Linked DNA regions of Homo sapiens. The protein of the gene in region 2 interacts with the protein of the main gene of each other region in a pairwise test. Each region holds a gene or a part of one and is shown on either strand. Other genes may lie near its edges.

Region 1 (3,646 bases), on a different chromosome or scaffold from region 2:
TTTAGGAATTTATTATCTGCGTAGAGTTCCTGTGATTCCCTTGACTGTAGGAATCAGCACAAACCTAACCATTTGAAAATTGAGAAAGTAAAAATTTAAGAATATAAATTTTATCAGGTGTATCCAGGCAGGTCTAAAGTTCTTTACAATTGTATTGATGATAATAGCTTTGAAAACCATAAAAATATATCTTCTCCTCCCTGGCCACATCAGTGATTGAAATCAGCCACACAAATTTCTTTTCCTGATATATCAGTCAACAAATATTTAATATGTGCTTTCTCTGCACTAGAGGATTTCGGGGTGCTGGAGTACACTATGAAATCAGACAGATACTTCACCCTCAACCAGCTGACTCTTGAATGGGATAAGGAAGTGTTGGCCAACAATAAAAGTGTCACCACTGGCTAGAGGTCTCTGGTTATTCCTAGAGAAGAGGCAGCCCTAGCAACCTCTTATCCAGTTTAATGGCTCTCACCCACATACCTGCTGCATCCCACATCCCCCTCCAACAGTGGGAAAGATGGGCAGAGAGAGAGAGAGAGAGAGTGTGTGTGTGTGTGTGTGTGTGTGTGTGTGTGTGTGTGTGTAGTGTGTGAGAGTGAAGCCTTTGGGCTTGGGGACCTGGAGGATAAATGCTTTGAGGATAAATGTGAGGTTCAAAAGTCCGGCACTGGCCAGGCACAATGGCTTATGCCTGTAATCCCAGCACTTTGGGAGGCCAAGGCATGATGATTGCTTGAAGCCAAGAGTTCAAGACCAGCCTGGGCAATGTAGCAAGACTCTATGTCTACAAAACATTTTCAAAATTAGCCAGGTGTGGTAACACGTCTGTAGTCCTATTTTTACTCAGGAGGCTGAGGTGGGAGGATCGCTTGAACCCATGAGTTTGTGGCCACAGTGAGCCATGATCATACCACTGCACTACAGCCTGGGCAACAGTTGTTGTTTCAAAACAACAACAAAAAAGGCTGGCACTGTGAATGTCAGGTGAATGTGAGTGGCACTCACAGCTGGCACGGGAATGTCACTACTCACAGTGCATTCTATTGCTGGAGATGCAGAATTAGGCTCAACCCAGACCGATGGAATCACTCTACATTTTAACAAGATCCTTGGGTTATTTACATACACATTAAAGTTTTGGAGGCATTGATTTAAAATACATTAAAAATAGTACAAAATTATTAAAGTAGGAAAAAAAGTGTATCTCTTGACTATCTAAAAGTATCTCAAATACCACAAACTAGTATGTGATTCACTCTCTCACCTACAGGATGAAATCTCAAATCCTTAGCTTGGTGTTCAATTCATAGTCACATTTTCCCATAGCTATCTCCCACTTTGTCCTGTATTAATAGCATTTTAGGTCAAACCAGCCTACTCCTTGTCCACTGATTATGCCACAGTATTCCCTCTTCTACACGTTACTGACACCATTCTCTGTACTTTTTAGGGCATCTTTCCATCTTTCTTCAGCATATTGCCGCCTTTCCCTTGCCCTGCACCACACTGGACTTTATTTTCATAATTATGTCCTGTATATTCTGCCTCCCAGTAACTAGACTTTGAGCTCCTTGAGGGCAAAGCCTGTCTCTGGAGTCCCAGTAATGAGCACAGTGTGTTGTTGCACAGGGCCCAGTGCAACAATGAGTAAATACTCATTGCCTGAGTCAGAGGAAGGAAAGGAAGGTAAGACGCAGTGATGCGCATCACCTCCCTAGGGAGCAGAGGCTGAGCTGCACCTTGGGACCAGCCACACAAGGCTAGTGTTCACTAGGGGTGGGGTGGTCTGTCCCCTCCTATGATTCTGCCTCCTAAACAGCAGCACCTGCCTGCCATAATACTGAAAATCATTAGGCTCAATCAGTCCTTGGGAGCAGAGTGTGTGTGTGTGTGCGTGCGCGCGCATGTGGTGTGTGTTAATGACCAGTTGGTTGTTTGAAATATCCTCCTCGGCAATTCTATTTTTGTTTACATTTAAACAAACAAACAAAAAGCATGTCAGTGTCACACAGGTGTCAGTGTCTGACTTCACGTGTCAGCAACTGCAAGCTTTCCAAAGGGTCTCACTCGAGGGGTGGTGCTCAGGAAAGCCTGGTCACTATTATTTCAAGTCAGCAATGTGCCCCATCATTTCTTTTTTTTTTTCTTTCTTTCTTTCTTTCTTTTTTTTTTTTTTGAGACAAAGTCTCGCTCTTGTCCCCCAGGCTAGAGTGCAATGGCGCGATCTTGGCTCACTGCAACCTCCGCCTCCCGGGTTCAAGCAATTCTCCTGCCTCAGCCTCCCGAGTAGCTAGGATTACAGGCATGTGCCACCACGCCCAGCTAATTTTTTGTATTTTTAGTAGAGACAGGGTTTCTCCATGTTGGTCAGGCTGGTCTTGAACTCCTGGCCTCAGGTGATCTGCCGGCCTCGGCCTCCCAAAGTGTTGGGATTACAGGTGTGAGCCACTGCGCCCAGCCGATGTGCACCATCATTTCTATGGTTCATCGTGGCTGCGGAACAGTGCACTTAGCACCCACCTTGGTAAAGAACCTAGAAAATTACCTGAGAAAATTAAATAGTTCACACACAATTGTTTCAGGCCTCAGGTCTCTGGCATTTTGTTTAAGGTGACCTCAGTTTTGGCAGCTGCGTTTATTAAATTCTATGTACCTGTCACTCCACCTTGTAACTTTAAAGAATTACAAATGACAATGTTTTTAAGCATACAGAGCTAAGCTAGGAATGCTGAACACTGTGTCGAAGATCCGAGGGCAGGTGAAGACCACAGGATACCCGCAGACGGAAGGCTTGCTGGGGGACTGTATGCTGAAATACGGGAAGGAGCTCGGGGAAGACTCCACCTTTGGTGAGTTATTCAGAGATCAGCTGGGGGAGCTGAGAACTCCTCCAGTATGGTTTTAGGTTATACACAAACCCTTCAGTCTAACAACCTTTGTTATTTTTCCATATTACCAAAGTAATACATGTTAATTGCAGGAGGTTTAGAAAACATAGGTAAGTAAAATAAAGAAAAATGCTAACATCACCCATAATCCCATATCCACCGATAGGCCCAATTAAACTCTGTTGTGTATCTTTTTTTTTTTTTTTTTTTTAGACAAAGTCTATGCCCAGGCTGGAGTGCAGTGGCGCGATCTTGGCTCACTGCAGCCTCCACCTCCCAGGTTCAAACGATTCTCGTGCCTTAGCCTCCCGAGTAGCTGGATTACAGGCTCAAGCCACCATGCCTGACTAATGTTTTGTATTTTAAATAGAGACAGGGTTTCGCCATTTTGGCCAGGCTGGTTTTGAACTCCTGACCTCAAGTGATCCGCCTGCCTCGGCCTCCCAAACTGCTGGGATTACAGGAGTGAGCCACTGCACTTGGCTTGTTGTGTATCTTTTATGCCTTGTTTATTCTTATATGTATTCATATGTACTTTTAAAAACTACAGTAAGGCTATAGTACATATACTCTTTGGTAACACTGACTATATAATGATCCATATCGTAAAATAATTAATCTTCCATGATATTGTTTTTAATGGCTACATAATATTCCATGTATCATAGTTTGTTCAGTCAATCCCATTTACTAAATAAATGTTTCTTTATGTAAAAACATTTTACATAGCATTTACAATAACCATTTTCATA
Region 2 (3,746 bases):
GCCCCAGGGAAAGTGCAGTGACAGAGCCCCCGGCCTCCCCAATACTGTCCGGGCTCCCCTGGCCTCTCCCCCTTCTTGGTGCCTCTGCCTCTCCCTCTGCTTGTCTGCAGGTTTGTCCCACGATGCCCCACACTCAGTGGAGATGGCAGGTGGGCCCAGACCTCAGAGTGGGTTTCAAGGCTCATGGGCTGGAGAGTGGGGGTTCCAAGTTTGCAGGACAGGAGCGCACCCCTACTCTGGAAACCTTATCTCTGAGGTCTCAGAATGGGGGATGAGGAGGGCTCCAATGGGCCCCTGTGGAATGTCCTATCAGACCCCAGGACTTAGCCCCAGTCGGGGGACAGAACTGTGGCCTTAGAGGGGCGCCAGGAGGAGGGCAAGCAGGATGTGGCCTTGGGCTGGGTGTGCTGGTGTGGGGCTCTCTGGAGTGTGGCCTCTGTGCCAGACGCCTGTGCCTTGGCCGTCCTACAGCCCTGCTGCCCCTGCCCTCTCCCCAAGCTGGGGACTGGTGGCAGACAGGGCAGGGCAGGCGGCTTCTCTTCCTCTAAGTGCAGGCCTCGAGGTGCCGACAGGGGTGCGGTAGGATTCAGGGAAAGTGAGGTTGGGATCACAGGTGCAGTTAGGGCTCAGGGCCCGACAGCGGTAGGCCAGCGGCTCCTGGGGCCCAGGAGGATGGTCTCCAGCGCCCCCAGCGGGGACAGGGCCAGCACAGGCCCAGTGGAGATCGAGGGGAGATAAGGACGCTGGTTAACATGGCTGACAGGAGGGATGGTGGGTGGGGAGGAAGGGCAGCACCGCCCTTGTGCTGTGGGAGCTCCCAGGGAGCTCCATGCAGCATGGAGGTGAAGGGCCTGCAGAGAGAGGGCTCCCCTGCTCAGTGACAGGAGAGGGGGCTGACAGTGACCTGGGCTCCCTTCCTGAGGCTGGCCAGTCAGCTAGAGGGCTGACCCCAAAGCCCGAGGCCAGCGCAGCCCCCTTGGCCCTCCTGAATCTGGGGGGCGGGTGAGGCGGGACAGACTCCGCCTGGCACCGGGACCATCCTCCGCCTCAACTTTGCAGCGTACTTGGACCGCTCTGGCCGCCCTGGGCGCTACCCGCAGAGATAAGGGCCCCTCCCTGCGCCCGGTCCGGGCATCTCCGAGCCGGCCTGGGGGTGGCTGAACTCTCTTTTGCCGGCCGAAACCCCAGCCCCCGCAGCCCCCGCAGCCGATCGGTCCTCAAGCTACAGCTCCCCTCTCTGGGAGTCCCCGCTTTTGAATTCCCCGGGGATGTTCCCGCTGCGGTCCGATGGACCTCCCAGAGCAGCGGAGGTCAGGGGAGCTAGCAGAGGCGGGGACGTCCCTTGGGAGTGAGGGGACTGACAGGGGCGGCCTCGTAACCCTGCGTGGGATGGAAGGTCAGAGTGGGTTCCTCGGTGGGGGGCAACAGCGGGGGCTCTCCGGCAATTGTCCCCGACCCTCCGTCCTGGGGAGGGCAGGATCAGCGCGCGGGCTGCTTTGCATCTCTTTGCATTTTAGTGATGTTTGGTCCAGTCCTGGCCCGGGCAGATCTGGGGTTCGGGCGGGTGCCGGTGGGGTAGGGCTGGGGGTGGGAGCGGCGTTTCCTGCTGCGGGTGAGCCTTTTGCCTCGGAACTGGACCCGGGAGACATCACAGCGCTGGGCTAGGGGCGCGGCTTGAACTCGCCTAAAGAGCTGCGCCCTCTCAGTAAGTCCCCATGGCCCCCTGCCCCCCCGCGCTCCGTCCTCAGTCAGGCCCGGGTCCTGCCTGAAGGCGGGGGTGGACCAGATGATCTTTCTTGGGCCCTGGGCCTAGATTCGAGGTCCCCAGGGTCCAAGTCCTGGGTTCAGAGGGCGGGGCGCGAGGGGCGGGGTCTCCAAGGGGCGGGGTCCCGGGGTCCCTGAAAGGCGCGGACCAGGCCGGATCCACCCAGTCTCGCGCCTGCAGCCCGTGCCGCCCCAGCCGCTGCCGCCTGCACCGGACCCGGAGCCGTCATGCCCAAGTGTCCCAAGTGCAACAAGGAGGTGTACTTCGGTGAGCGCGCCCACACCGGCCCCGCGAGGAGGCGCCGCCGACGGGGCGACGAGGCTGGGGACCGCTCAGGAGGACCGGGGGCGCTGGGTCCCTGGGGCGGCGCCCCAGCCTGAAAACGCCTCAGCCTGGCCCGCCGCCTGCCCCGGGATGAGGGTGGAGGCCCCTGCGTCCGAGGGCCCTGGCGATCTCTGCCTGCTAGTGGTCTTGCTGTGCTCGGCGGGCTACCTCTGGCTCTGAGCCTCCCCGTCTCTGGGTCCTACGGTCTCTGCCGTTTCCTCTCAGGCGCGCCCTGAGTGGGGGACCCGCAGGGCTGGAAGGAACGCGGGGCTGGGGCCGCGCCCCCCAGCGCTAAGTGGAAACAGACGCGGAAACCGACGCCCGGGGCGCGATCCCGGGCGCCCGCCTCCCTGCCCCGCGCCCGCGCGCCCCGAGGGGAGGGAGGAAGTGGGAAGTCACCCCTGTCCCCGCCGAGAAGGGCTGTCGCAGGCTCCACCCTTGCCACCGCAGAGGCCCGGGGCTGAAAGCAGGCAGCCAGGCCCAGGCCCTGCTGACCTAAGCCGCGACCCCTGACCCTCGGCCTCGCCCTCTAGCCCCACCCAGCCTTCAGGAGCAAGATTCCCGGCCGCACCCGAAAGTGCCCCGGGGACCAGCGACCCCGCGCTTTGTTTAGTTGTATTGGCTCTGGGGATTGGAGATGTTCCCCTCATGGAGGGTGCTGAGACCTTAGGGTGGGCTGCCAGGCTGGGCGGATGCGGGCTAAGTGCACAGGGCCTTGGGCAGAGCTGGCTGCAAGAGGCGGGTACGCCAGTGGTGGGTAGGCGCCGCGTCCTGCAGCGTCTCACCGGGGCCTGTCTGTGCCTCTGCAGCCGAGAGGGTGACCTCTCTGGGCAAGGACTGGCATCGGCCCTGCCTGAAGTGCGAGAAATGTGGGAAGACGCTGACCTCTGGGGGCCACGCTGAGGTAGGTGGGACCCACCCTGGTGGCAGGGGCCAGGGGTGATGGCACCCCCTCACGGCCCTTCTCTTTGCAGCACGAAGGCAAACCCTACTGCAACCACCCCTGCTACGCAGCCATGTTTGGGCCTAAAGGTATGCTCCCGTCATCCCCACCCCACCCCACCCCACAGCCTCCTCCACCCCAGCCTGTTGACTTTTTCCACCTTCTCTGCAGGCTTTGGGCGGGGCGGAGCCGAGAGCCACACTTTCAAGTAAACCAGGTAGGTAGGACCCCACCCCCTATCCTGCCTCCTGGTTCCACCCTCGGGATGGGGATGCCCCCTCCCAGGGAGGCCTGACCACTCGTGGGCCCCAAAGGAGGCCGTGGACGCTGCACTCACGTCTGTGCCTGTCTCTCTCTGCACAGGTGGTGGAGACCCCATCCTTGGCTGCTTGCAGGGCCACTGTCCAGGCAAATGCCAGGCCTTGTCCCCAGATGCCCAGGGCTCCCTTGTTGCCCCTAATGCTCTCAGTAAACCTGAACACTTGGAAAACCTGTGTGTGTACATGCGCGTGTGTGCTGGGGAGTGCCAAGGGAGCTGCAGTGGGGTCCTGGCAGCAGGCTCTGCCACCGGCGCCTGCTCTTCTGCTGCCCATTGCCCTCCCCAGGGGGCCGTTCCAGGGTCTCATAGGCGAGGGCTCCCTGTGCAGGGTGAGTCCAGGCCACCCTAGACAGCCCGCACCCAGCCCTGGCACTCTGAGTCCGCCTCGACAACTC
Region 3 (3,646 bases), on a different chromosome or scaffold from region 2:
AAAAGGGACTTCCAAATTCAGCCTTTCACTTTGGGTGGTGCAGCACCCACGTTTTTCTATGAGAGGAGGTCGGAAGTCACTGTCGCCCTGTCCTCATCCCAGAGCTGCAGGCCGGGGACAGCTGCCTCATAACCCCGGCTGTCCTGTGGCTGCACTGTGACGCCACACAGGGCCCACACAGGGCGCCCGCACACGGGACGTGCACACAGTACATTCACAGAGCACTTAGTGACAGACGGCAGGTTGGACGTGTTAGGCACAGGGACCTCACGTGGGGCTGCAGACCTCATTGCAACAAGGGACCTCCAGTCTTGTTTGGCCCACATTTTCCCTCATCCGCCCCTCGGAAGGGCCGGACGCAGCCATTTCAAATATTAATACATTTAGGGAGAAAAGTGCAATGGTAGACTCGGGAGACAAGGGATCTGAAGGAGGCTCTGCTTCCCACGGGGAGAGGAATGCAGCCAGCGAGGCGGGCGGGGGACCTGTCAGACCCAGAGCTTGCGTGAGCAAATGTGAGGGAGACCCTTGGTACGTGCAGTGTGTCCCTCCAGATGCAGGCACCCATGAGTGGACCACGACGGGCCAGAGGCTCCGGCTCCACCTCAGCCCCATCACTGGCGAAGCAGAGGACAGTGGGCAAGGGACTTAAATCTGCTGTAAGTTTCTGTTCCCACTGATCAAAGATCATAGATGTGCAAGCTTTGTTGTGAGTAATGTAACAACAGGAATTGCCTACCAACAGGGCAGGCTGTAAAAAATTCTTCTTGAAATACAGTCTGTGCAAAGTGTGTTATCTGTCATAATTTATAGTGGCTAAGGACATTAAATGCTTTCACATGGATAAAAAAACAGCTGCTGCTTTTGTATGGCAGAACATTCTAGATGTATCCACTTTATGCAAACTGGGCTGTGCAAACCATAATAGCAAGGCAGAGGTCACAGGGAGGGGAGGGGCAGCACGGGGGCTGGAAAGAGAAGTGCCGCGTAAGAATAACGGAGACAGAGACAGAATGTCAGATGCACAGAGCTGGAGGACTTTGTGGAAACACATTCCTGCTGGTGAGGAGGCCCGCCATATTGGGAGGCCATCTCAATTCCTGGGCGTCACCAAGTAAGACAGTTCCCACACCCACACCCCCTCACCCTGACCCTGATCAACCAGTTTCCTTCTGCCATCAGGGATGAACAGGTAAGGAATATTCTGGTAGCCATGAGAATGTATGAATAGATTGGCATTGGTGATTTGTAAACAAAAAAGTATTTCCAGTTAATTTCTTTCAGCAAAACCATAAACTCAAAAATCTCTATCCTGAAGGCAGCTGCCCAGGGCAGCACAGGGCAGGCAATGAGTGTGAGACCCCACAATGCAACAGACCCTTACAAACCCCCCAAGGCCACACACCCTGGGTCCATCTGCCCTGCTGTTTCTTCAGGAAAAAACCCAGAATGGAAATGCTGGAGCCCCAGGGGCTGGAGACCGGGGAGAGGTGGCCTGTAAGGCTGTCCCATCACCATCCCCGCACGTCAGAAGCACCGTCACGTTGGAAAAGAATGACGCTTATTCCACCAGTTCTGAAGCCAGATGTCCTCACAACCGAAGCAGCCCTGTTTGTGCTTGGGCTATGACTTGAGGGTAATTAAACTGTCAAAACACCCTCCCTACTATTTCCATTTTCTTGCAGTTGGTGTCATTTAGTCACTGCAGGCTGACAGACTTATTACAGGATTGAGACATGAGAATGAACAGTCAGAAACCTATAAATGAACTCACCACAAATGGCTGCTGGAAAGGAAGAAAACTATCTGTCGATGGGAAAACTCCATCCACTTCAGTCACATTAAAGGAAATCATTTTTAAAGAAAACTTGAATCACATTAACACCACAGATTTCACTGACTGTCCTCCGCAATCTCTCTCTATGTATCTGTGGAATTCCATAGTTGAACTCATGACCATTTTTTAGAGGCAGGGTCAAGCTATGTTGCCCAGGCTGGAGGACAGTGGCTATTCACAGGCTTAATCACAGTACACTACAGTCTTGAGCTCTTGGCCTCAAACCATCCTCTCACTTCAGCATTCTGACTGGCTGGGACTACAGGTGTATGTCACTGGGCCTGGCTAGCCTCATGACCATTTCACAAAAAACACTATCCAATGCTCTCTTCCCTAACTGCACCTTGATGGTCTTGCCGTACCAGCAAATTGTCTTGATCTTGACTATGAACTTTAATGGCCACATAATATTCCACAAAGAAGATGGACCATAATTCAATCATCGTTTTCTTTGGAGCTCCCTTAACCACCCCCTTGCCACATTCAATCACAGGGGCACCACACTCAGCTGAGGCCACCTCCTGCCAGCCAGCCAGCCAGCCCTTCCTTCCCCCAGGCCTACAGTGCTGCCTCAGCCTAGGCTTTTACATTTTCTCCACCGTTCTACAGTTCCTAAAGAGCAGGGAGGATTCTCACCCACACCCTCCACCTGTGTGAACACAGTGGCTGGAGCTAGTTAGCTCATGTTTTCAGAGTGAGTGAATAAATGAATGAAGACAATTTTTTCCTCTCTACCCAGGAAAACATATTGGTGGGACCCTGCCAGCATCCTGATGGGGAAGGATTTGGGGTTGGGCATTTAGGGAGCTCTTTCTGCTGCTGCTGCATCTTGGCTGACACTATATGCATAGATTACACAGAATGAGGAGTGCTTTTCTGCACACCGTTTCATTTTGCAGTTAAGGTGCTGAGGTTTAGAAGGGACCGTGGCCTACCCTGGGTCTCACAGACCTCAGGCCTCTTAACTCCCTGACCAGGGCCTCTTCCTCAAACCACAGCTACTCCACACTCCTCCCACTTTCCAGCCTCTGCACAACCCGGCCAGGCCCTGAGCCCTTCGGCCAGCAGCTGCAGCCTTTGGGTCCTGGTTCCTGGGCTGGCCTGGAGCCCCACCTCTGAACCTCAGCCTCCTGCTGACTTTGCCAGCCCCTTTCCACCACGTTCAGAGTTCTGCCCCAACCCACACCAACCCCCAGGACCACAATGCTGCCAATTTCCTCCCCTCCCCGACCAGAAGCCTCTTTGCAATGCACAGATTCTCTGCTTTCCCATGCTCATCAGTGATGCTGGTCCCAGCAGGAGCGCCATGCGAGCCCCCCTACACCCCAGAATATGAGCCACTGCCCCCCCTGCCCCAGTGGGTGAGTCTGGGTCCTCTAAATCCCTCTGCTTTTTCATCTTCATTAACAGGCATCCCACGCCTGAACCCACTTCCCCTCTCAGACCAGCAGAGGAAAAATGGGGCTCTGCTGAAAATTCACTAACACCCACCCTGCTTTGTGCAGATGCCTGCACACCTTGGCACTGCCCGGACAGCCTCAGGCATGACATTTACCCTGTGGACCACATGGGACATTGGGATTCCTCGGCTCCTCTCTCTCCCTGGACTGCCAAACTCTGTGTGGCCCTCCTCTCAGTCCCCACGCCCCCAGGGCCCATGCCACAGATAGTCTGGGATCTGAGCAGACAGCTGCAGCAGGGTGAAGCCACCCTCAGGGGAGGCAGGTGTCCAGACCAACAGCAGACAGGACCCTGCAGACCCCATTCTTTTGTTCACTATTACTCTGTCTAGGAAACAGCTGAATTCTT

The links.
Region 1: the proteins of CRIP1 (region 2) and SH3GL3 interact in a two-hybrid assay, tested with the Homo sapiens proteins (one large-scale study listed by BioGRID and IntAct).
Region 3: the proteins of CRIP1 (region 2) and VOPP1 interact in a two-hybrid assay, tested with the Homo sapiens proteins (one large-scale study listed by IntAct).

What each region holds. Positions count from the first base shown.
Region 1 is NC_000015.10:83,565,818-83,569,463, forward strand, and holds part of SH3GL3 (endophilin-A3), read left to right. Parts: intron 1-2,711; coding exon 2,712-2,855; intron 2,856-3,646. UniProt on the Homo sapiens protein: Implicated in endocytosis. May recruit other proteins to membranes with high curvature.
Region 2 is NC_000014.9:105,485,268-105,489,013, forward strand, and holds CRIP1 (cysteine-rich protein 1), read left to right. Parts: upstream 1-1,618; 5' UTR 1,619-1,705; intron 1,706-1,931; 5' UTR 1,932-1,992; coding exon 1,993-2,032; intron 2,033-2,898; coding exon 2,899-2,993; intron 2,994-3,063; coding exon 3,064-3,121; intron 3,122-3,203; coding exon 3,204-3,244; 3' UTR 3,245-3,249; intron 3,250-3,395; 3' UTR 3,396-3,680; downstream 3,681-3,746. UniProt on the Homo sapiens protein: Seems to have a role in zinc absorption and may function as an intracellular zinc transport protein.
Region 3 is NC_000007.14:55,485,499-55,489,144, forward strand, and holds part of VOPP1 (WW domain binding protein VOPP1 isoform 1 precursor), read right to left. Parts: intron 1-3,646. UniProt on the Homo sapiens protein: Increases the transcriptional activity of NFKB1 by facilitating its nuclear translocation, DNA-binding and associated apoptotic response, when overexpressed. May sequester WWOX in lysosomal vesicles and thereby regulate WWOX role as tumor suppressor.